7 linked regions of the Homo sapiens genome follow. The protein of the gene in region 4 purifies or fractionates together with the protein of the main gene of each other region. This does not show direct contact. Each region holds a gene or a part of one and is shown on either strand. Other genes may lie near its edges. The genes, in order: LEMD3, SLC27A2, POR, ADIPOR2, RDH11, RAP1B and UBAC2.

Region 1 (3,500 bases), about 63 Mb from region 4:
TATTTGAACCCTTAAATGATTAGCTTTAAGAATAGATGTGTAAGTTAAGTTAGCACAATGAATATGCTGAATTTTTTCCCTTTTAGGAATAATACATATTTCTGGAGGGCGTCTTGTGTGCCAAGATCTGTGGATAGGCATCAGTGTGACATAGTTCCTATACCAGCTTACAGTTTAGTTGGGAATATAAGAGGAAGATAAGTTCTTGTTTGGACTGAAATGCATTTAAAAGTTGTGGTTAATGTAATGGTAGTTGTTTGTTTATATTCTTACTGGAATTTCTTTGTTTATATTCTTACTGGAATTTCTTCTAGAAATTATAAATAATATTGTTCATGTTCTTTCTTTACTGATTATAATAATATAACCTGTAATTGTATAATGTATAAAATATTTGAATTAATTATGTTTGTTTTCTTCTGTTTAAGAGAGTACTGATTCAAAATTAATAATATGCTAATCTTTCCAGGAGATCATGAATGTGGCAGTTCTAGTCAAAGAACGCTTTCTGTTCAAGAGGCAGCTGCGTATTTAAAAGTAAGCAATGAAATTAGAATTTTAATAGCTATATTTTAAAAAATTATATAAATCATTGCTACTTGTAAGAATCATATGTTTGATTATTTTAATTGTACTGTTAAAAGCTTGGGCCTGCTGTTTGGTATAATATGAGCAGTTATGAGAAAGTAAAATTGTTCAACTTTTTTTTTTTTTTTTTTTTTGTGAGACACAGTTTCGCTCTTGTTCCCCAGGCTGGAGTGCAATGGCTGATCTCGACTCACTGCAACGTTCGCAACCGGGGTTCAAGCGATTCTCCTGCCTCAGCCTCGCGAGTAGCTGGAATTACAGGCACCCACCACCTCGCCCAGCTAATGTTTTTTGTATTTTTAGTAGAGATGGAGTTTCACTATGTTGGCCAGGCTGGTCTCAAACTCCTGGCCTCAAGTGATCTGCATGCCTTGGCCTCCCAAAGTGCTGGGATTATAGGCGTGAGCCACCTGTTCAATTTTTTTTAGTTTGTTTTAGAACATTCTCTATGAGAGAATGCATATTAATTTGGAAAGGGTACAAAGAAACATTGGTCATAGGGAAATTGAGATAGGTGAGTAGTAGCATGTAAGAGAGCAGGTAAATATCTAACCATTTATTTAAAATCTTCTGTCCCACATCAGTTTCTTCTCCAAATACTAAGAGAACTTGCTGTTGAATTTTCTAAACTACTGTAAATAATTTCTGGAAAATCTTAATGAAAGGTAGTAAAAGATTAAAGATGGATAAATGTCATTCTGATTTCTCAGAAGTGGAAAGTGGCATTTGAAAACCATACAGGAAAGCTTGTTGTCGGTCCAGTTCCATAAAGATAATTTCATAAAGATCTGAGTTCTTGCAAATGGAAACGTTGATCCCTGGAAGGTGGCTGGCATTTGAACGTGGACAAGTCATGCCATACAAATTTCATGCCTCCCATCCCCTTGTTAAAATTGTGGTAAAAAATATATAACGTGAAATCTGTTAACATATTTTTAAGTATACCGTACAACTATATGTGCATTCTTATACAGCAAATCTCTAGAACTTCTTCATCTTGTATGACTGAAACTCTATAGCCATTGCACAGCAGGCCCCCGTTTTCCTCTGCTCCATATCCCTGGCAACCACCATTTTACTTTCTTCCTCCATCAGTGTGATTAACAGATACCTCATATAAGTTGAATCCTGCAATTTTTGTCCTGTGACTGGCTTATTTCACCTAGCATAATATCTTCAAGTTTCATCCATATTGTAACATGACAGTACTTCCTTCATTTTTTAAGGCTGAGTAGAATTTCATTGTATGTATACATATATTTTCTTTATCCAGTCATGTTGATGGGCTTTTAGATTGTTTCCACCTCTTGGCTATTGTGAATAATTCATCAATGAACATGGCAATGCAAGTACTTCTTTGAGACTCTACTTTTAATTCTGTTAGACAAATACCTAGAAGTGGGATTGATAGATAATATGGTAGTTCAACTTTTTATTTTTTGAGGAACCTCCATACTGTTTTCATATTGACTGTACCATTTTACATTCTTTCCAATAGTATAGTAGGATTCCAGTTTCTGCCTATCCTTAACACTTATTTGCCTTATAGCTCACTGTGTTTTTATTTGTGTTTCCCTGATGATTACTGATGTTGAGCATCTTTTCATATACCATTTATATACATATACATCTGTGTGTATATATAGCATGTATACAGCATATATATAATACCTTATCTGTTGGCCATTTGTATATCTTCTTTGGAGAAGTGCTATTCAAGTTCTTTGCTGATTTTTAAGTTGGGTTATTTATTTTGTTATTGAATTGTGGGGGTTTCTTATGCATTTTGCATATTAACCCCTTGTCAGATATATGGTTTGCAAATATTTTCTCCCATTCTGTAGGTTACTTTTTCACTGTATTCACTGTTTTTTTTTACTGCACATATGCTTTTTAGTTTGATGTAGTCCCACTTTTCTGTTTTTGCTTTTGTTGCCTATGCTTTTGGTGTCATGTCCAAGAAATTATTGCCCATATCAACGTCAAGAAGCTTTTCTTCTATGTTTTCTTCAAGAAGTTATATAGTTTCAGGTCTTACATTTAAGTCTTTAATCCATTTGGAGTTGATTTTTGTGTACGGTATAAGATAAAGGTCCAGTTTGATTCTGTTGCATGTGGAAATCCAGTTTTCCTAGCACCATTTATTGAAGAGATTGTCATTTCTCCATTGTGTAGTCTGGCACCCTTGTAGAAGATTGTTGGATCATACATCAGTGGCTTTATTTCTGGTTCTCTATTTTGTTCCACTGGTCCATTTATGTCTATTATTATGCTAGTACTATACTGTTTTGATTACTATAGTTTTGTCATATGTTTTAAAGTCAGTGTGAGGCCTTTGTGGTTCCATATGGATATTAGGATTATGTCTTCTATTTCTGCAAAAAATGCTATTGGGATTTTGTATTGCTGTATTGCCTTCGGTGGTATAGTAATTTGAGTAATATTAAGTCTTCCAATTCACGAACATGAGATGTCTTTCTATTTATTTGTGTCTTTTATTTCATTCAGCTTTTTTTTTTTTTTTTGTAGTTTTCAGTGTATAAGTCTTTCACCTCCCTGGTTAAGTTTATTCCTAAGTATCTAAATCTTTCTAATGCTATTATAAATGGGATTATTTTCTTAACCTCCTTTTCAGATTGTTGTTAGTGTATAGAAATGTAACTGATTTTTGTATATTGATTTTATATCTTCCAACTTAGCTGAATTTGTTTATTCTAACAAGATTCTTTTTAGTAGAGATAGGGGCCTTGCTATGTTGCCCAGGCTGGTCTCAAACTCCTGGGCTCAAGTTATCCTCCTGCCTTGGCCTCCTAAAGCACGGATTACAAGCATGAGCCACCACACCCAGCCAAATAACAAGATTTTTTTGGTGAAATCTTTAGGGCTTTCTATGTATAAGATTATGTCACTTG
Region 2 (2,690 bases), on a different chromosome or scaffold from region 4:
AATTTTGTATTTTTTTAGTAGAGATGGGGTTTCACCATCTTGGCTAGGCTGGTCTTGAACTCCTGATCTCGTGACCCACCTGCCTCGGCCTCCCAAAGTGCTAGAATTATAGGCGTGAGCCACTGAGCCCGGCCTGAACACCTTTTGTGTACAGAACTCTGATGCCATAGAATTAGGCTCCTGTAAGGACTATAGATGGCATTATTACCTGTTGGATAATGCTACCTATACACAGTGGACAGGATGCCTCCGGGTAGGGAAAGTTGGCCTCCTCACATTGGAGTAGATTTCCATTGTGTTGGCCACTGCTGATCTAGCCGCCTCACCCTACCATCCCTCACCCCACCCCCCGTTCCCAGCCATTTTTACCTAGAACGTCTTTACTCTTACGAATGGGACACCTATGAAAAGTTACCAGTGAGGACTTCAGGCTTTGGAGTAATTGACACAGGCTTTGTATTTAGAGTAAAGTGAGGAAAGAACACAGAGACAGTGCCATCTCACATGTTGGTGTTCATTTAATTTACTAAGTATTTTAAAAAATAATGCCTTCCCTCCAACAAGCTCAGTTTGCAAATACAAACAGTAGGTGCACACTGAAAAATAATAATCTCTAAATCTTTTTACTTGCAAAGACTCAACTGTTATTTAAAAAAGTCTCCCTTTACGGGTATGCAAATTTCCTACAAAATTTCCTCACAATCTTCAATCAAATTAAAGTTGGATTATATCAAGTGGCTGTCCATTCAGTTTCTTTCTGGAAATGTTGAGTTATCCTCCTGGGAATATTCAGAGTTTCAGGGTTTTAGCACTTATGGCATTATAGATGTCCTCAGTCATAGGCACATACATTTTTGCTGTGTCATCCAAGAAATACAAGGCATCTTTGATGACAGCAGGGTTAAAGCCCTCCTCCACCAGGGTCATTTTGCGGTGTTTAAAAGTTCCAGTGATCTCAATGGTGTCCTGAAAAACATCAAATAATCCACATTTTGGTTGCATTTTGCAATAGATTAGGATGCAGAGCAAGGGGTAGGGGTGGGGCATGGGGATCTAGCAAATCATTAGCATCCCTGGCTCATGTGAGAGCTGGGAAGTGAAAGTTAAAATAAAGTTTTCCATTTTAATTTATTTTTAAATGGACAGATAACATTGTGTGTTTTTCTCATGTACAATATGATGTGCTGAAGTACATATACATCGTGGAATAGTTTGGCTAGTTAGCAAATGGATTACTTCATATAGATATCATTTTTGTGGTAGGGGCAAGTAACATCCACTCTTTACATTTTCTAGCGAAGTGAAAGTTTTATATGATACCCATACATTCTGTTTGCAGGATCTCCATTAGGGAGCCCTTTGTGAGGTATTTTTTATTCCCTTAAAGCTTTAGGATCACCTGTGGGGAGGGAGGACCTGCCAAGGATGAGATACCTGTGCATAGATTTCTGAGCAGAGGGGTGGTGCCTATTTCTTGGTAAGGCTTCAGGTACCGCTAGGATATCCTGATTCATGGTGGGATTAGAAGGAGGGATCATTTACAGACAACTCTGTTTTCTCAGTCTGCTTGTCTATTAGATTAGATTGAAGACTGATTTTTCCTTCAATTATGTGTTAATCAAAATATCTGAGGATATTTCATTTTCATGCCACTTTACCATCTGGTTGCAAAGCAAATGTTGGTGCCCTATGAACATCAACAGGAATAATCCTATACACACAATATCTGGAATCTTAAGACCTCCTTTGTCAAGTCTTCAGCTACAGAATCACAGAGCTCAAAGTCTAAAAGTGAGAGTATTAAACCAACCAAAGGGTTAATGTTGGAGGAAGAAAAAAAATCCTCCTAGCGGTGATAGTTAAGTCTTAGGCAATTCCAGCTGGCTAATGTCCAATTAAATTTCACACCACAGAAAGGTGTAGAACTTCTGTGGATTTCTGTGTTCTTTAAAACTGGAAACAACAAACAGGGTCAGAGCATTTCTATTTGCGCTATCTGTCAGGACTCACCAAACAGACTTTGTGAGTTATGTGCTAAGTCTCTTGCTGAATGAACTGGCCTGTCATTGTAAGGAGAAAGGGATTAGGATTGGATTTCTTCTAGCTGTTTTCTGATATATTTTTTTTTAGACTGGGCCTTGCTCTGATGCCCAGGCTGGAGTACAGTGGTGCAATCATACCTCACTGCAGCCTTGATTTGCCAGGCTCAACTAATCCTCCTGCCTCAGCCTCCCACGTAGATGAGACTACAAGTGCACATCACCATGCCTGGCTAATTTTTTTTTTTTTTTTTTTTTTGGAGATGGAGTCTCACTCCATTGCTCAGGCTGGAGTGCAGTGGCGTGATCCCAGCTCACTGCAACCTCCTCCTCCTAGGTTCAAGCGATTCTCCTGTCCCAGCCTCCCGAGTAGCTGGGGCTACAGGCATGCACTACCACGCCCAGCTAATTTTGTCTATTTAGTAGAGACCGGGTTTCACCATGTTAGCCAGGCTGATCTCGAACCCCCGACCTCAGGTGATCCACCTGCCTCTGTCTCCCAAAGTGTTAGGATTATAGGCGTGAGCCACCGCGTTTGGCCTTTTTTAAAAATTTTCATTTTTAGTAGACATGAAGTCTCACTACGTTGCCTAGGCTGGTCTCAAACTCCTGAGCTCAAGCAATCTTCCCACCTCGGCCTCCCAAAGTGCT
Region 3 (3,500 bases), on a different chromosome or scaffold from region 4:
AGGCACCCACCACTATGCTAGGCTAATTTTTTTGAATTTTTAGTAGAGACTGGGTTTCAACACGTTGGCCAGGCTGGTCTCGAACTCCTGACCTCAGGTGATCTGCCCACCTTGGCCTCCCAAAGTGCTGGGATTACGGGCGTGAGCCACCGCACCCAGCCACCTGAGGTATTTCTAATAGTTTTGGTAGCCAGACTGCAAGTTCCTAGTCCTGGCTACTGGCTTATGTGATGTTCAGAGGCAGCTGTAGAAGTAGCTTCTTATCCTGGATCACAGCTACACGTGGTGTGTCCTGAACTCAACAGTTTCAGGCTGCATTCGAACAGAGCAGCTACCTTGCAGGTTGCTTCTGTGATATCTTAGAGACCAACCTGCTCCTTCAGCCCCTCCAGTAACCTGGAAGTACCCCCTTCCCTGTGTGAAATCCCTTCCAGATTAAAATGCCTAAAGTAGTCTCTAGTTTTCACACTGAATCCCACCTCATACAAAATAAAACTTACGCGGCCGGGTGCCGTGGCTCACTTCTGTAATCCTAGTACTTTGGGAGGCCGAGGTAAGAGGATGACTTGAGCCCAGGAGTTTGAGACCAGCCTGGGCAACATGGCAAAACCCTGTCTCTACTAAAAATACAAAAAATTTATCTGGGTGTGGTGGCGCATGCCTATGGTTCTAGCTACTTGGGAGGCTGAGGTGGGAGGATCACTTGAGCCTGGGAGGTTGAGGCTGAAGTGAGCTGTGATTGAGCCACTGCACTCCAGCCTGGGTGACAGGAGTGAGACTGAGTCTCAAAACAAAACCACCACCAAAAAAAACTTAGGGATTACAATAAATGTTCTTATACTTTTTAAAGTTCCTGAATTTTCCACAAATCATTGTTAAATCATTAAAAATTGTTTTTTTTTTTCTTGAGACAGAGTTTTGCTCTTGTCGCCTAGGCTGGAGTGCAGTGGTGCGATCTCGGCTCACTGAAACCTCTGCCTCCTGGGTTCAAGCGATTTTCCTGCCTCAGCCTCCTGAATAGCTGGGATTACAGGTGTCCGTCACCATGCCTGGCTAATTTTTTGTGTTTTTAGTAGAGACAGGGTTTCACCATGTTGGTCCAGCTGGTCTCAAAGCTCCTGACCTCAGGTGATCCGCCCGTCTCAGCCTCCCAAAGTGCTGGGATTACAGACATGAGCCACTGCACCCGGCCAAAAGGATTTTTTTTTTTTTTAGATGGAATCTTGCTCTGTTGGCCAGGCTGGAGTGCAGTGGTGCGATCTTGGCTCAATGCAACCTCCGCCTCCCGGGTTCAAGTGATTCTCCTGCATCAGCCTCCCGAGTACCTGGGACTACAGGTGCATGCCACCACGCCCGGCTAATTTTTGTATTTTTAGTAGAGACAGGGTTTTCGCCCAAAAGGATATTTTAAAATAATCACCGTAAAAATACTTAATAGAAGAGAAAGTGCTCATGATTATCAGGTTAAGAGAACAAAAGATGACCTAAGATAGCAGCTAAATATTTACAGGAGCATCAAAATATATAAAATACCTAGAAATAAACTTTGTAAGAGATGTGTCAGAAGCTACTGAACTACACACAAAGGACTCACGCCAATGGAAAAGCACCCCGATTATGGACAGGGAGTCTCGACCCACAAAAATGGCAGCTCTATTTATGTCACTAGAGAAATGTGGCATGATGTAATAGAAATCTGAACCAGCTGGGTGCAGTGGCTCACACCTGTAATCCCAGTACCCTGGGAGGCCACACCAGGAGGACTGCTTAAGCCCAGGAGTTTGAGAACAGCCTGGGCAACAGAGTGAGACCCAGTCTCTACCAAAAAAAAAAAAAAAAATCTGAACAGCTTTTTTTTCCTCAACAAATTGATCCTAAAAGTCACGGAAAAATAAGTAAGAATCCATATATTAAAACATTATTTGGCAATAAAAAGGAAGTACTAACATATGCTACAGTGTGGGTGAACCTTGAACACGTTGCGCCCAGTGAAAAGAACCCAGAGACCCAGCTATTATTATTATTATTTGACACAGGGTGTAGCTGTTGCCCAGGTTTGAGTCCAGTGGTCACTGCAATCTGTGCCTCCCAAGCTCAAGCTATCCTCCCACTTCAGCCTCTCAGGTAGCGGGGACTATAGGTGCGCACCACTGTGTCCCACTAATTTTTCTATTTTTTGTGGAGATGGGGTTTCGCCATGTTGCCCAGGCTGGTCTCAAACTCCTGGGCTCAAGCGACCTGCCCATCTCGGCCTCCCAAAGTGTTGGGATTACAGGCATGAGCCACTGCGCCCAGCCCAGGAATTAAGTATATGATAAAGGTGGCATTTCAAACCAGTGGGGGAAAGATGGACTCTAATACATGGTGTTTAGACAGCTATGTAAAATGTAGAGTTGGATTCATACCTCACATCTTACATCAGGATAAATTCCCAATAGATCAGATTTTAAATTTTGAATATGAAAAACAAAACCCTAAAAGTACTAGAAAAAAAAAATACAGGAATATCTTTATCTCTTTAGCATGGGGAAGACCTTCAAATTATGACTCTAAGACCAGAAGTCACGAAAAGAAAGAATCATATAGGTGACTCTGTAACTTTTACACAGCAAAACAAATAAAAATGCGATCAGCTAGGTTGAAAGACAAACTTTTTTTTAAGAGATGGAATCTCACTAAAAGACAAACTCTTTAACGGGCAAGATATTTTCAACTTATATCACAGACAAGAGATTCATCTCCCTAATAATTTCAAGGAGAAAGATCAATCCCAACAGAAAAGCAGGCAAAAGATGTGAAGAGAGAATCTATTAAAAAAAGAAAAAAGAGGCTGGGTGCGGTGGTTCAGGCCTGTAATTCCAGAACTTTGGGAGGCCAAGTTGAGTGGATGACCTGAGGTCAGGAGTTCGAGACCAGCCTGGCCAACATGGCAAAACCCTGTCTCTACTGAAAATACAAAAGTTAGCCAGGCATGGTAGCACGCACCTGTAATCCCAGCTACTCAGGAGAATGAGGCATGAGAATTGCTTGAACCCGGGAGGTGGAGATTGCAGTGAGCTGAGATCACACCACTGCACTCCAGCCTGGGCAACAAAGCGAGACCCTGTCTCAAAAAAAAAAAAAAAAAAAAGAAAAGAAAAAAGAAAAAGAAACGAAGCCATCTAGACCTAGGTGGGTGAAAATCTACTGAATCTCATTCATAAAAATGTAAATTACAACTATACTGAGTTTTTTTTTTAAGCCTAGAAAACTGACAAAAATCTAAACTTTAATAACAAACTGTTGGCAAGGCTGTGGGGAACAGTTTTCTCACACGTCGCTATTCTTGAGCGCGTGCCACGGTGTGACTCCTACGGGGACGATTTGTAGCTTCTATCACGATTGCAAACACATCTACCTTCCAATCCAGCAATTCCACTTCTGGGACTGCTTTGTATTTGAAATGTGCAAACCGAGCTACATATTCACAGTGACATTGTTGGTAAGAGCCAAAGAGTAGC
Region 4 (3,500 bases):
GGGGATTAATTTCCCCCAAAGAAAGGGGATAAAGGGCAAAAACCCCTCCATACCAATGTTAAAATGATGATGATGAATCAGAAAGATAAATTAGCTAATTTGAAGCTAGAAAGATTGCTTAAGTTCAAGATCATCTTCATTTTACAGATAGCTAAACTAAACTTTAAAGAGATGAGATCATCAGGTTAGTCTATAATAATCAGCAATAGGCTGAGGAACAGAATTACAAAGGTCAGATTTCACATTAAGCGTATTTCCAATGTTGTCTTGTTGAAAATATTTCAGGCCCTCTTTGGTTATAAGTTTTTCTATCTATATCAGTCCTTATATTTTCTTTTCCCTCTTCTCTTTCCTCCTCTCTTACCAATGACCACAATCCAGTTCAATCCAGTTCCCTCTTCTTCACAATCCCTCTTCTTCCACCAGACATACATACACTCAGTCTCCCATTACAAATCACTAAATTTCGGTATAAAAAAAGACCCTGATAGAAATCTGGTCCTAAAAAGGGCTCTGGTGAAAATCTGGTCTATCATCCTCATTTCATAAATAAGGAAACTGAGACAAAGAATGGCAAAATGACTTGCCATTGTCAAAAAGAGCACAGATTCTGATATTAAAACTAGCCTAATTCAAATTCCTGTTCTACCACTTAAATAGCCACATGGCTTGGACAAGTGGCCTCACCTCCCTAAGCCTTAGTCTCCTGCTTTGTAAAATGAAGACATTAACAAGAGTTATCATACCACATAGGGCTAATGTATGTAATGAGGTAATCCGTGCAAAGCACTCTGTACCATGCTGAGCACCAAGGAAGTGCTCACTAAATGTTAGTTATTATTGTACTTATTGTCCAGAGAAAGCTCAATAGGGAGTTAGGACCAGGATACAACTCTCCTGACTTTGTGTCTAAAACTTTTTCTATTGCATCACTCTGCAGGATGCCAATAACTCATGAGCAGATACCTACACACTCAGTCACCCCGACATACTTACCCAGATGTCACATTTGCCAGGGAAAAAGCGTTCGGGGATCCGGGCAGCATACAGGGCAGCTCCTGTGATGTAGAGGCTGGCCATCAGCATCAACCAGCCTATCTGCCCTATGGTGGCGGCCTTAAGGAACCCCTCCGAGATGACATAGTGCAAGGTAGGAATGATTCCACTCAGGCCTAGGCCCAAAAACACTCCTAGGAGTCACAAGAAGAGAGTAAAGTAATGCAGAAGAGAAACAAAGAGCCAGAAGTCAGTATTACAGCACAGCACCATTAACTCTGTAAACTGAATATTTCAAAGTAGCATATAAAATTAGCTTCCAGTTTTAAAGGAAAAAGAAGGTTCTTCAAACTCTGGGACACTGTCACACAAGACAACACAGCTATGTTCTAAAGATTTACAAATGCAAGGAGCCAGCCGGGTGCAGTGGCTCACACCTGTAATCCCAGCACTTTGGGACCAGCCTGGCTAACAGGGTGAAACCCCATTTCTACTAAACATCCAAAAAGTAGCCAGGCGTGGTAGCGCACTCCTGTAATCCCAGCTACTCGGGAGGCTGAGGCAGGAGAATCACCTGAAGCCGGGGGCAGAGGCTGCAGTGAGCCGAGATCACGCCATTGCACCCCAGCTTGGGCAACAGGAGTGAAACTCCGTCTCAAAAAAAAAAAAAAAAAGCAATGAGCCTCACTAAGAGAGGCTTAGCTTAGTAAGTCAGCAGTCTTCAAGGGTTTTGAATTAATGTTGCTAAATGTTTTCGGAAAGGACAGCTCCAGGAGTTTATTTAAACTGTCCTAGCCTGTCCTTCTACAGACACAGGTTACAATACAAGCAATTTTACGTATCCCATCTTCTCTTTGAAGCAGCAGGCGTTGTTGGGGTGGAGAGGCGATGAATGATCACATCACCTGGCATCACCTATTTTTAATAGGAATCTAAGGCTGGGCGCAGTGGCTCAGCTCACACCTGTAATCCCAGCACTTTGGGAGGCCGAGGCAGGCAGATCACTTGAGGTCAGGAGCCAAGATGGCACCACTGCACTCCAGCCTGGGCTACAAAGCAAGACTCCATCTCAAAAAAAAAAAAAAAAAAAAAAAAAAGAAAGAAAGAAAGAAAAAGAAAAGAAAAGAAAAAAGAAGAAAAAATTTAATCTAAATCTATAACCTATAACTGGGCACTTAAAAATTGTTAAATGCCTTTAACAAATGACCTAATGGGGGTGGGGGATGGGAGAGAATACTATAAGCTCCCAGACCCCTAAATAGCAATCAAGTACAAAAGTCTAGCAAATCACTCAGCCACAGCCCTACTGCCTTACTGCCTCCAGAAGCATCTAATGTTTTTTTAAACTTCTGGATATGACCTAAGTTCTAAGATCAATTAAATGAGTCTCAACCAGCATTTTTTTAAATGAACTAGAATAAAATTTAAAATATCAGACTGTAACATACGTGGAGGATTAAATACTATTTTGTTAAAGTTTTGTAATTTATATATACATGAACTTATGTATAGATACACGTGTTCAGGACTGTAATAGAAAATGTCATGATGGAAAAAAAAATGTGAAGTCCACTGATCTAAATCCACTTTGAAACCCGTGTATCAGCCAAAGCAACACAGGAGCTCCCTGCCTCTGCCAGTAACTGCTCCTACATTTTGACACAGAGTTAACAATGACCCTTGCAAAACAAGCTGTCATTTGGTAAGCTTTCTCAACAGATAAAGAACCTATTACTTGCTTTGGACATTACCAAATAAACTGCTGGTATACAGCAATATATGTAAGCACAGCTATGGGATGCATACTCACAAATAAAATGGACATCTAAAAGAGAAGAGGAAAATGGCAATGCTGCTCTCACAACAGGTAAGAACCAAGCAGACCTAAAGAAAAACTATTTCCTACCTCTGCTCCTCTAAGGAAAGATTTGCTAGACTTTTGCACTATTCACTTTTTCTTTTCCTCTACATGCTAAGCAAAGGCTGCTAATGGTTTCTGCCTATCATTCTCTAAGTCAAAGGCTCAGGAATTTGGTTCTTCTGATGTATGTAAATAACAGAATGCTCAGCTGTACTCAGCAAAGACATTCTTATCTCATGTGCTCAAGCAGGCTTAACACCACTGTACTACTCAAGTACTGTTGAAAGCTGACCCTGACCAATGCTCATTTGCTCATATGAACACAAAAAGGAGGACGGCAGAGTGTTTTAACAGTGGTCACTGACATGAGGTTACTTCTGTGTCTAACCTTCCAGGTACCCCCGGATGATCCAGGGTTTAGATTTTAATACTAAATGGTTTTGGGGGTTTAAGGACGAAAGGAAAAACACTCCTTGTTCATTCTCAGTGGGCACTGAGCTTGACACTGAGTAGGAGACAAGAACATCTCTGCTAATTCCATGTCCTACAAGAAGACTCAGCCAAGGCACTGAGGGGCTTGTGGCTTTCTCTATGATCTCCAGCTAAACAGGCATTATCCTAAATATAAAAAGCCCCTTTATCC
Region 5 (3,500 bases), on a different chromosome or scaffold from region 4:
GACTTCATCAAAATTTAAGTTTTACATTTCAAAAGATACCATTAAGAAAGTTAAAAGACAACCCACAGAATGAGAGAATATTTGCAAATTATATATCTGACAAGGAACTCGCATCTAGACTATTAAGAACTCTTGTAACTCAACAATAAAAAGACAATTATCCAACTTAAAAATGGGCAAAGGACTTGATAGACATTTCCCCAACAAAGAAACAAATGAACCAAAAAGCGCATGAAAGAATGTTCAACATCATTAGTAGGAAAATGAAATGAAAATAAAAACAAGATATTCCTTCATACTCACTAGGATGGCTAAACTCAAAAGGAGAGACAATAACAAGTGTTGCTGAGGATGTGAAGAAATTAGAATACTCATAGACTGCTGGTGGGAATGTAAAATGGGGCAGTCATTTTGGAAAAGTTTGGCAGTTCCTCAGCAGTTAAACACAGTTACCATATAACCCAGAAATTCCACTTCCATGTACCCAAGAGAAATGTCCACACAAAAATTTCTACACAAATGGTCACAGCAGTATTATTCAAATAGCTAAAAAGTGCAAACCCAAATGCCCATCACCTGATGAATGAATAAATAAGATGTGGCAAATCTATACAATGAAATGTTATCCAGCAATAAAAAGAAATGAAGTACTGACACATGCTTTAGCATGGATGACCCTTGATAACATTAAGCTGAGTAAAAGAAGTCAGTCACAAAAGGCCACATACCATATGATTCCATTTATATGAAATGTCCAGTAAAGGCAAATTCTTAGAGACATAAAGCAGACTAGTGGTTGCAGGCAGAAAGAAGAGCCAGTGCAAAAATCTTAAGGCTTCAATCAAAAGACTTTTATGTTCATTTCTTGATGGTGGTCTACACGGCTGCTGTTGGATCTTCAAAATGAATTAAGAATCCATAGCACAGGAAAGGCTCTTCAAAAGTCAATCCAATAGTAAGTTATGGATTTAGAGCTGACTTTCTTTAAACCACTCAGTCAAAACCAAGATAAAGGGTTATTTTTTTTTTTCTTAAAATCTCTAGGGAAGAAGAATCCAGTCACTCTTGGAAAATCAATCCAGTATACTATATAAATCTATCTTCTTATACTTCAGAACCACATTTCCAACTATCTGCTATACATTTCTACTTGCATGCCTTATAGATAACACACATGCAACATGTACAGAGCCAGGTTTGTTACACAGTGGACAACTGTTACTCTTTGGCTGAACATTCTACTTTGTTTCGGCAATAGCAACCTGATTTCCTTCTGCAGAATCACCTTTTCCCCTCAATATAGTTTGAAGAGAGCATTAATAAAGTCCCTGTTTGCCTCTAATCAAAAGAGTAAAAATGAAGGGATAGGAGGAAGGAGATCCAATGCTTCCTCCCTAGAGAATGGATGATAAGCAATACAACCTAAACACTAAAGATAGCTGGCATTCGCTCACTCTAGCAGCAATGCCCCGGCTGGCTGACTGCCACTCTGACACTTCTTAGCCTGGCTCTTCAGTCTTCCCTTTCAACCTAGGGGTCCCTCCTCTCCCTACTAATATTTTAATAAATTTCCTTCTTGCTTAAGCTAGACAAAGTCCCTTTCAACTGCTTTGGAATCCAAGAACCCTAAGTTCCACACATTACTTTTCCATGTCTGCTGTCTTAGTTAATGTCATCATCAACCTCATTCAGGCTTGAAATTCAGGTTAGCAAAGCCTCCCTCATCCCCTCATTTAATTAATCATCCAGTGATAAAAATTCTGCTGCTTCAGGGCCTCTTTCACATTACCATTCCTTTCATTACAACTTTCTGAAACTCTCTCTCTCACTAGGTTAATTATTCATTCATGAAACAAAGTTGCTAAAGCACAGACCAGATTTTGTCTGTCTACTGAAACAACTCTGGGGCTCCTCCACAAGGCTGGCATTATAGGCCTCTCATAATCTGTCTGCCTTTCTTTCCAATCTTAATGCTATTTTCAGCTACTTCCTTAAAATTTCAGGTCATTTCAACAATAACCTGAAGTAGAGGTAAAAACATGTTAAAATTTTGATCTTATGTGATGCCTGGGATTTGCTTCAAAATAATATGGGAGAAGAAAAATATGGAAAGGGGTAGAGAATGGGGATAGGGCAGAATTGGCCATGGGTTAATGGTAGCTGAGGCTCCATTATATGCAGGCTCAGTGCACTATTTTATCTAACCCTGTGTTATATTCAAAATTCTCTACATTTAAATCATTTTAAATGTCTTCGCTTATTTGAGAGGGGAGTCCATAGTATTTCAATCCTGAGGACAATAGAGAAATGCAGATTCAAATTCTTTTTTTTTTTTTTTGAGGCGGAGTTTCACCTGACCTTAGGTGATCTGCCCACCTTGGCCTCCCAAAGTGCTGAGATTACAGGCGTAAGCCACTGCGCCTGGCCTCAAATTCTTTTTAAATTCTTTTTAATGTAAAACAATAGAATTAGGAATCCAAAAAAGAATAAAGAAAACTGGACTGACATAACAAAGACAGGAAGAAAACAAACAGAATGCATAATTATCAGTATAAAAGATGGCATAAAATCAAATGTAGCAGTTATTACAAAAGAGAGTCAAATTCCCCTACTAAAAGGTAAAAACTCTAGAGTTAAAAGACAAAAGCTATATGAGACAATGTACTTTTAAAAAAGGGTATACCCAGACAAACCCAAATTATCTCCTTTGAGCAATAAATCTCATCTGCAAAAAGAGATAACATTCATACCTGAAATGATTCCCACTTAGAATCTCAAGACCTTCTGTTAAGGCACAGTGCAGGCTGGTCTGGGCTCCCTGCTGAGGAGTCTTGATGAAAAAGGAGAAAAGCCACCACATCCATCTCATGAAAGATGAGTGCCGAACCAGTTCAGATTGGACTGTGCCAGGGTGTACAGAATACGTCGTAACGCCAGAGCCTGGTTGGGGGTGGCATGAAGAGAGGGTAAGACAGGACTTGATTTTGCAGAATAGCCCAAAACAGAAAAGGATGTAAATAAGCATGTGACCTTCACATATGGACTCTTTTGCCCATGGTGACATCAGAAGTACTGCTCACAGTAATTTATACTTCCATCTCACAGATCTAAGAAGGCTCTAGAGTAGACAGTGCTAAGGACCTCTGTGTATTTCTGACTGGAAACTCAAGTCAGGAATCAGCAGAGCCAAGACTCATCCTCTCAGCAGCACTTAACATCGTTGACCACCCCCTTCTTTTTTAGAGATGGGGTCTCCCTATGTTGACCAGGCTGGTCTTGAACTCCTGGCATCAAACAATCTTCCCACCTTGGCCTCCCAAAGTATTAGGATTACAGGCATGAGCCACCACACCCACCCCATCCCCTTCATTTTTTTGAGACAGGCTTGCTGTGTTGCCCAGGCTGGAGTGCAGTGGCATGATCTTCCTTCTGCCACTGCCTTCCAGGTTCAAGCGATTCTCCTGCCTCAGCCTCCCAAGTAGCTGGGACTACAGGGGTGC
Region 6 (3,500 bases), about 67 Mb from region 4:
CTGTGGAGATTGTGCCACTGCATTCCAGCCTGGGTGACAGAGCGAGACTCTGTGTCAAAAAAAAACATAAGACTACTAGTTGCTAAACTTTAAATCTTTTTGTTGTTGTTCCGTTGAATCCTTAATTTTATATTGGCCGGGCGCAGTGGCTCACGCCTGTAATCCCAGCACTTTGGGAGGCCAAGGTGGGTGGATCACTTAAGGTGAGGAGTTCAAGGCCAGCCTGGGCAACACAGTGAAACCCCGTATCTACTAAAAATATAAAAAAAATTAGCCGGGCGTGGTGTTACACACCTGTAATCCCAGTTACTTGGGAGGCTGAGGCAGGAGAATAGCTTGAACCCGGGAGGCGGAGGAAGTATATTGCACTTTTTGTAATTGCAGTGGGTCAGTTATTGAAAAGTTTAGAAAATGTGTTAGAAGAAAAATTTTCAGTCTCACTAGTACTTTTAAAACAATATATTACCATATTTCAAATAATACAGGCATACATTCATTCATCAGCAGCTGTGTGAAATATTTTGATTGAGCTGGGTATGATGGCTCATGCCTTGTAATCCCAGCACTTTGGGAGGTCAAAGGGGGGTGGATCACCTGAGGTCAGGAGTTCAAGACCAGCCTGGCTAACATGGTGAAACCCGTCTCTATTAAAATACAAAAATTAGCCAGGTGCAGTGGCAGGCACCTGTAGTCCCAGCTACTCGGGAGGCTGAGGCAGGAGAATCGCTTGAACCCTGGAGGTAGAGGTTGCAGTGAGCTGATAACACACCACTGCACTCCAGCTTGGGTGACAGAGTGAGACTCCATTTCAAAAGAAAAAGAAATATTTTGATTGGTATCTGTTCTCCTTCAACGTATTTATAGACAAACTAAATTTGTAGGTATGTGAAGATGAAGGGAAGATTTGTTCTCGGTGTATGGTATTCATTCAGCTAATGTTTGAATACCTGATACATGTCAGGCACTGTGTTGTTACCTTCAAATGCTCACAGTCTAGCAAAGAAAAAGTAGTGTGGGAAAATGGGATGGTCTAGATCATGCTGATGGAGCCCTACAGAACTACAGCATTTGAGTCATAGCTAATAGATTAACTTGGCAGATACAGTTGGGGTGCTTTATACATGATGATGTATTTTAAAAGCTGCCTTTAGTAACTTTTGGGGACAGGATATTTCTGTTCCACTTGAGTATATTTTTTGTATATAAATCGACTTTGGTGTATTGTTTTTAAATAGGAAACCTATTTCCAGCTGGGCGTGGTAGTTCACGCCTGTAATCCCAGCACTTTGGGAGGCCGAGACGGGCAGATCACAAGGTCAGGAGATGGAGATCATCCTGGCTAACATGGTGAAAGCCCGTCTCTACCGAAATACAAGAAAAAAATTAGCCGGGCATGGTGGTGTGCGCCTGTTGTCCCAGCTACTCGGGAGGCTGAGGCAGGGGAATCACTTGAGCCCGGGAGGCAGAGGTTGCAGTGAGCCGAGGTCGCGCCACTGCACTCCAGCGTGGTGACAGAGCAAGACTCCGTCTCAAAAAAAAAAAGAAACTAAAATGCCAATTTTTTCAAATAGTATCTTGTCATAGATTATAATTTTAACAAAGTTACATAATACTACAGTATTCTTCATTGAGCTATAATTATAGACTGTGAAAATTGTAAAAATAACTGTCAAAACATTATTGTTTTTTAACGTTCCTTTCTTTCTATTGTAGGAGCAATTTACAGCAATGAGGGATTTATACATGAAAAATGGACAAGGATTTGCATTAGTTTATTCCATCACAGCACAGTCCACATTTAACGATTTACAAGACCTGAGAGAACAGATTCTTCGAGTTAAAGACACTGATGATGTAAGCTGACTTCCAAATAAATATATTTTATTTCAAAACCCTGATTATAATTGTTTAAGTCTAAATTTAAATTCATTTTAAAGCTTGTGTATTTTGGTTGGGGGGGGGGTGTTGGTTTTTTTAAACTTTTTCCTTGAAAGGCAAAAATACCCATACATGTTTTCAAATATATATCATGTGGAAAGTGAGAAATTTCCTCCTTTGCCATTATCCTGTGAAAATTAAATGTTACACCCTTCCTTTTTTTTTTTTCCTTTGAGATGGAGTCTTGCACTGTTGCCCAGGCTGAAGTGCTGTGGTGCGATAGCTGTACCTCCCGGGTTCACGCCATTCTCCTGCCTCAGCCTCCCGGGTAGCTGGGACTACAGGCGCCTGCCACCATGCCCAGCTAGTTTTTTGTATTTTTAGTAGAGACAGGGTTTCACCATGTTAGCCAGGATGGTCTCGATCTCCTGACCTTGTGATCCGCCTGCCTCAGCCTCCCAAAGTGCTGGGATTTTAAAGGCAAGAAATACATTAGATTCTAACATTATTAATTTAGGTGCCCCTTCAGAGTCTACCATAATGGAGTTTAATTCCTCATCACACTAAATATAGCAGTGGTTCTCAAAATTGATTTTGCATCAGAATCACCTGTAGGACCAGTTAAAACAGATTGCTGGGCTGAGATCTCAGAGCTTCTGATTCAGTAGGTCAGCAGTAGGACCCAGGAATTTGCATTTCTAACAAGTTTCGAAGTGGTGTTGGTTTTGCTGATCTGCATACTGTAAGAACCAGGCTGGGCATGGTGGCTCACACCTCTAATCCCAGCACTTTGGGAGGCCAAGGCGGGTAGATCCCCTGAGCTCAGGAGTTCAAGACCTCCCTGGGCAACATAGCAAAACCCTGCCTTTACCAGAAATTTAAAAAAAAAAAAATTAGCCAGCATGGTGGCGCGTGCCTGTGGTCTCAGCTATTTGGGAGGCTGAGGTGGGAGGATCACTTAAGCCTGGGAGGTGGAGGTTGGCAGTGAGCTGAGATCACATCACTGCACTCCATCTAGGGTGACATAGTGAGACCCTGTCTCAAAATAAATACATAAATAAGACTCATTGTACTGCAGTTTAATTTTAGCAAATATTGTGAGAGCTGGGAGACACCCATGGTAAATGCTTTTATTTTCTGGACTTCTGAAACAAGGGAATTTGGGGGGACCCTACATAATTACAGCAACCTCAGGGAACATTTTTTAATTTGTAAATCCATTTAATAAGTGGCTTGATTTTTAGTAAATTTTGATTGGCTTTTTTTTTTTTTTTTTTGAGACGGAGTCTCACCCTGTCGCCCAGGCTGGAGTGCAATGGCACGATCTCAGCTCACTGCAACCTCTGCCTCCCAAGTTCAAGCAATTCTCCTGTGTCAGCCTCCCAAGTAGCTGGAATTACAGGCGTGTGTCACCATACCCAGCTAATTTTTGTGTTTTTAGTAGAAACAGGGTTTCGCCATGTTGGCCAGGCTGGTCTCCAACTCCTGACCTCAGGTGATCCACCCGCCTCGGCCTCCCAAAGTGCTGGGATTACAGGCGTGAGCCACTGTGCCTGGCCTTGATTGACTTTTTTAATACAAGACTATGAGAAACTAAAAATTCTATTTTGGGAGCCTTCCGT
Region 7 (3,500 bases), on a different chromosome or scaffold from region 4:
GGTATTTTGTTTGTTTTTTGAGGCGGAGTCTCACTCTGTCACCCAGGCTGAAGTGCAGTGGAGCGATCTCCGCTCACTGCAACCTCTGCCTCCCGGGTTCAAGTGATTCTTCTGCCTCAGCCTCCTGAGCAGCTGGGACTACGTGCCACCACGCCCAACTAATTTTTGTATTTCTAGTAGAGATGGGGTTTCACCATATTGACCAGGCTGGTCTTGAACTCCTGACCTCGTGATCCGCCCACCTCGGCCTCCCAAAGGTGGCATGAGCCACCGCGCCCGGCCTGTTTTTTTGTTTGTTTGTTTGAGATGGAGTCTCGTTCTGTCAACTCTACTCCTAGATTCTAGTTATTTCACACACTAATACATGGTTTTTGTTTTTTTTAAAGAAGATCAACGCAATATGAAAGCATACAAATTCTGAGTGGGGTTGGCCACGGCAGGTTGTCTACAAAGTTATAACCTATACACCGGCTTTGTTTTATGTTTGATGGAAGTGTTTAAACATTATCAGCTTTTAAAAAATTATTCTTCAGAAGCTTAACTTCGTACAAATTAATTTTGTTTCCTAATCTAATTAAACTATATTTTTGTGTTTAGTTCATAAAATTACAAAGACAAATTTCACTATAAAAACACACAAAACTAATTCTATCAGGATCAGAATAGGAAATTCACTTAAAATTCTCTAAAACACAAACTTTCAAAGCTAAAAAAAGAAGGTGCCTGGGCAAGGTGGCTCACACAGTGGCTCAAGCACTTTGGGAGGCCGAGGCGGGTGGATCACCTGAGGTCAGGAGTTCAAGACCAGCCTGGCCAACATGGTGAAACCCTGTCTCTACTAAAAAATACAAAAATTAGCCAGGCATGGTGGCACGTGCCTGTAGTCCCAGCTACTTGGGAGGCTGAGGCAGGAGAATCGCTTGAACCCGGGAGGCGGAGGTTGTAGTGAGCCGAGATCGTGCCAATGCACTCCAGCCTGGGTGACAGAGCGAGACTCCGTCTCAAAAAAAAAAAAAGTAAAATAAATTTTAAAGAAAGAATATAAAATTGATTCTATTTCAAGAACATAATAAAAATGTAGGCATAGATTAGACTTTTTACATATAAAATCAATTTAACTATATCTAGAAGTTTAAAATATTATTTTACTGACTTTCACATAATAATAATAACACTTTAAATCAGATTCAAGTAGTTCTAAATTAAGTCAATCTTTAAGTGCTACTTACAATCCAGAAGGCAAATTACTAGCTGCAGTGATGCCAAAGAAATACTGCATAGCTTCAATGAGGAGAAAGTCAAATAAGGCTGACAAAACCCAGGAACCCAGCAAAAAGGACTACAAAATAAAACAGCAGAAAAATGATAGAGATGAGTCTCCTAAAAATAAACTAACATTTATTCAGCTAGAATCAGCTCAGAGGTGTGTATTCATATGTATGTGTGTGTGTGTATATACACACATGCATATGTGTGTATATATATTTGAAATTATTTGTTTTTATTAAAATAGACTTTAGAAAATGGGCGGGGTAAACCCATATTGCTCAAATGTATTAACAGCCATAATTTTTAAGTATGTTGAAGATATATTTTTAACAAGTAAAACACAAACCACTAAGCAAAATAAATTATAATTTTATTAAAGTCAAAGTATTAAAATTTGTATTAGTGTTCACAACTAATACTACATATTATCATTATCACTATTATTATTATGCTAATGTCTTACATTTTAAAATTTTCTTTGGTTAATGTCCATGTGCCTCAAATCAGATACAGAATAGTGTAATTAAAAAGATAACTGTAAATAACAACACCAAGTTTAACAAAATAAAATCCATTTAAACAAAATTTTTTTCTACAGCCTAAGTAGCAAAGACAAAATACATAAAAACTTACTGCAAATTTTCTGCTTCCATATCTTCTTTCAAATATCCTAAAATTATAAATAAGCAGACTACTGCAGAAAGTATCTTTCAAATCAAGGCAAATTATTCTTCCACATATCAACCTCCAAATCTAGATGGGGATTTAAAAAAGAACAATAAACAAGAGTAAAATTTGTTCGGGTCTCTTCCTTAGCAAATTTGTTATGTTTACACTGCCTATTTTTAATGTCCTAAACAAAATCATAATGCACACACCAAAGGAAAACTATATATGTATGTTCTCTGAGCTCAAGTCTCTCATAGTAAAAATTCCTCCCAACAGTGGCACGAAAGGTACTTGAATTTTTTTGTGCTTATAAGAAAACATATTCTCATTAAGATAACAGAAAACTGCCTATAAGAAATTTCAGGATCACGTTTAGTAAGATTTTTTAAAATTATATACGTAAACTAGAATGAAAGGCTAACAAATGTTCATTTTTATGTTATTGAATAAGACAAAGTTGTAACTGAAAAACAACTTAGGTATAAACTCAAAAATATGCATTTCTGAGCTTAATTTTAATCATCAACTTACTTCATAGCAACTATGCAAAGTAATTTATGGCAACTGCTGCTAAATATGACTAGGTTTGAAATATTAGTTTATTTAAATCATTGTTTCACCCAACTTCTGGCTGCATAAAAAACATATAAGGGGACATACAAAAAAAAAAAAAAAAAAAAAAGAGCTACTCAAAGGCCTATTTTTGAGTCTGCTTAAACATTTTTCAGATTTTTAAAGATAATCCCAATGACATCTCAAACATCCTAATCTTATTTCCCCTTCACAATGACCTTATGAGATAGGTAAAACAAATATTAATTCCAACTTTTCTTTGTATTTTTATTGTGGTAAAACAGATATAAAAGTTAAAATTTTGCTGGCTGCCCAGTCTGGAAAGTGAGGAGCGTCTCTGCCCGGCCGCCATCCCATCTAGGAAGTGAGGAGCGCCTCTTCCCGGCCGCCATCCCATCTAGGAAGTGAGGAGCGTCTCTACCCGGCCGCCCATCGTCTGAGATGTGGGGAGCACCTCTGCCCCGCCGCCCCGTCTGGGAGGTGAGGAGCGTCTCTGCCCGGCCGCCCCGTCTGAGAAGTGAGGAGCCCCTCCGCCCGGCAGCCACCCCGTCTGGGAAGTGAGGAGCGTCTCCGCCCGGCAGCCACCCCGTCCGGGAGAGAGGTGGGGGTCAGCCCCGGCCAGGCCAGCCGCCCCGTCGGGGAGGGAGGTGGGGGGGGTCAGCCCCCCGCCCGGCCAGCCGCCCCGTCCGGGAGGGAGGTGGGGGGGTCAGCCCCCCGCCTGGCCAGCCACCCCGTCTGGGAGGTGAGGGGCGCCTCTGCCCGGCCGCCCCTACTGGGAAGTGAGGAGCCCCTCTGCCCGGACAGCCGCCCCGTCCGGGAGGGAGGTGGGGGGGGCAGCCCCCCGCCCGGCCAGCCGCCCCGTCGGGGAGGGAGGTGGGGGGGTCAGCCCCCCGCCCGGCCAGCCGCCCCGTCTGGGAGGTGAGGGGCGCCTCTGCCCGGCCGCCCCTACTGGGAAGTGAGGAGCCCCTCTGCCCGGACAGCCGCCCCGT

The links.
Region 1: the proteins of ADIPOR2 (region 4) and LEMD3 purify together in Homo sapiens (affinity purification with mass spectrometry, with the first as the bait; one study listed by BioGRID). This does not show direct contact.
Region 2: the proteins of ADIPOR2 (region 4) and SLC27A2 purify together in Homo sapiens (affinity purification with mass spectrometry, with the first as the bait; one study listed by BioGRID). This does not show direct contact.
Region 3: the proteins of ADIPOR2 (region 4) and POR purify together in Homo sapiens (affinity purification with mass spectrometry, with the first as the bait; one study listed by BioGRID). This does not show direct contact.
Region 5: the proteins of ADIPOR2 (region 4) and RDH11 purify together in Homo sapiens (affinity purification with mass spectrometry, with the first as the bait; one study listed by BioGRID). This does not show direct contact.
Region 6: the proteins of ADIPOR2 (region 4) and RAP1B purify together in Homo sapiens (affinity purification with mass spectrometry, with the first as the bait; one large-scale study listed by BioGRID). This does not show direct contact.
Region 7: the proteins of ADIPOR2 (region 4) and UBAC2 purify together in Homo sapiens (affinity purification with mass spectrometry, with the first as the bait; one study listed by BioGRID). This does not show direct contact.

What each region holds. Positions count from the first base shown.
Region 1 is NC_000012.12:65,218,083-65,221,582, forward strand, and holds part of LEMD3 (inner nuclear membrane protein Man1), read left to right. Parts: intron 1-469; coding exon 470-537; intron 538-3,500.
Region 2 is NC_000015.10:50,234,196-50,236,885, reverse strand, and holds the end of SLC27A2 (long-chain fatty acid transport protein 2), read right to left. Parts: intron 967-2,690; coding exon 790-966; 3' UTR 501-789; downstream 1-500. UniProt on the Homo sapiens protein: Mediates the import of long-chain fatty acids (LCFA) into the cell by facilitating their transport across cell membranes, playing an important role in hepatic fatty acid uptake.
Region 3 is NC_000007.14:75,974,155-75,977,654, reverse strand, and holds part of POR (NADPH--cytochrome P450 reductase), read right to left. Parts: intron 1-3,500. UniProt on the Homo sapiens protein: This enzyme is required for electron transfer from NADP to cytochrome P450 in microsomes. It can also provide electron transfer to heme oxygenase and cytochrome B5.
Region 4 is NC_000012.12:1,781,570-1,785,069, reverse strand, and holds part of ADIPOR2 (adiponectin receptor protein 2), read right to left. Parts: intron 2,059-3,500; coding exon of another isoform or gene 1,960-2,058; intron 1,191-1,959; coding exon 997-1,190; intron 1-996. UniProt on the Homo sapiens protein: Receptor for ADIPOQ, an essential hormone secreted by adipocytes that regulates glucose and lipid metabolism. Required for normal body fat and glucose homeostasis.
Region 5 is NC_000014.9:67,682,265-67,685,764, forward strand, and holds part of RDH11 (retinol dehydrogenase 11), read right to left. Parts: intron 2,941-3,500; coding exon 2,751-2,940; intron 1-2,750. UniProt on the Homo sapiens protein: Retinol dehydrogenase with a clear preference for NADP. Displays high activity towards 9-cis, 11-cis and all-trans-retinol, and to a lesser extent on 13-cis-retinol.
Region 6 is NC_000012.12:68,652,399-68,655,898, forward strand, and holds part of RAP1B (ras-related protein Rap-1b isoform 1 precursor), read left to right. Parts: intron 1-1,713; coding exon 1,714-1,854; intron 1,855-3,500. UniProt on the Homo sapiens protein: GTP-binding protein that possesses intrinsic GTPase activity. Contributes to the polarizing activity of KRIT1 and CDH5 in the establishment and maintenance of correct endothelial cell polarity and vascular lumen.
Region 7 is NC_000013.11:99,242,354-99,245,853, reverse strand, and holds part of UBAC2 (ubiquitin-associated domain-containing protein 2 isoform 1 precursor), read right to left. Parts: intron 2,023-3,500; coding exon 1,903-2,022; intron 1,340-1,902; coding exon 1,230-1,339; intron 1-1,229. UniProt on the Homo sapiens protein: Restricts trafficking of FAF2 from the endoplasmic reticulum to lipid droplets.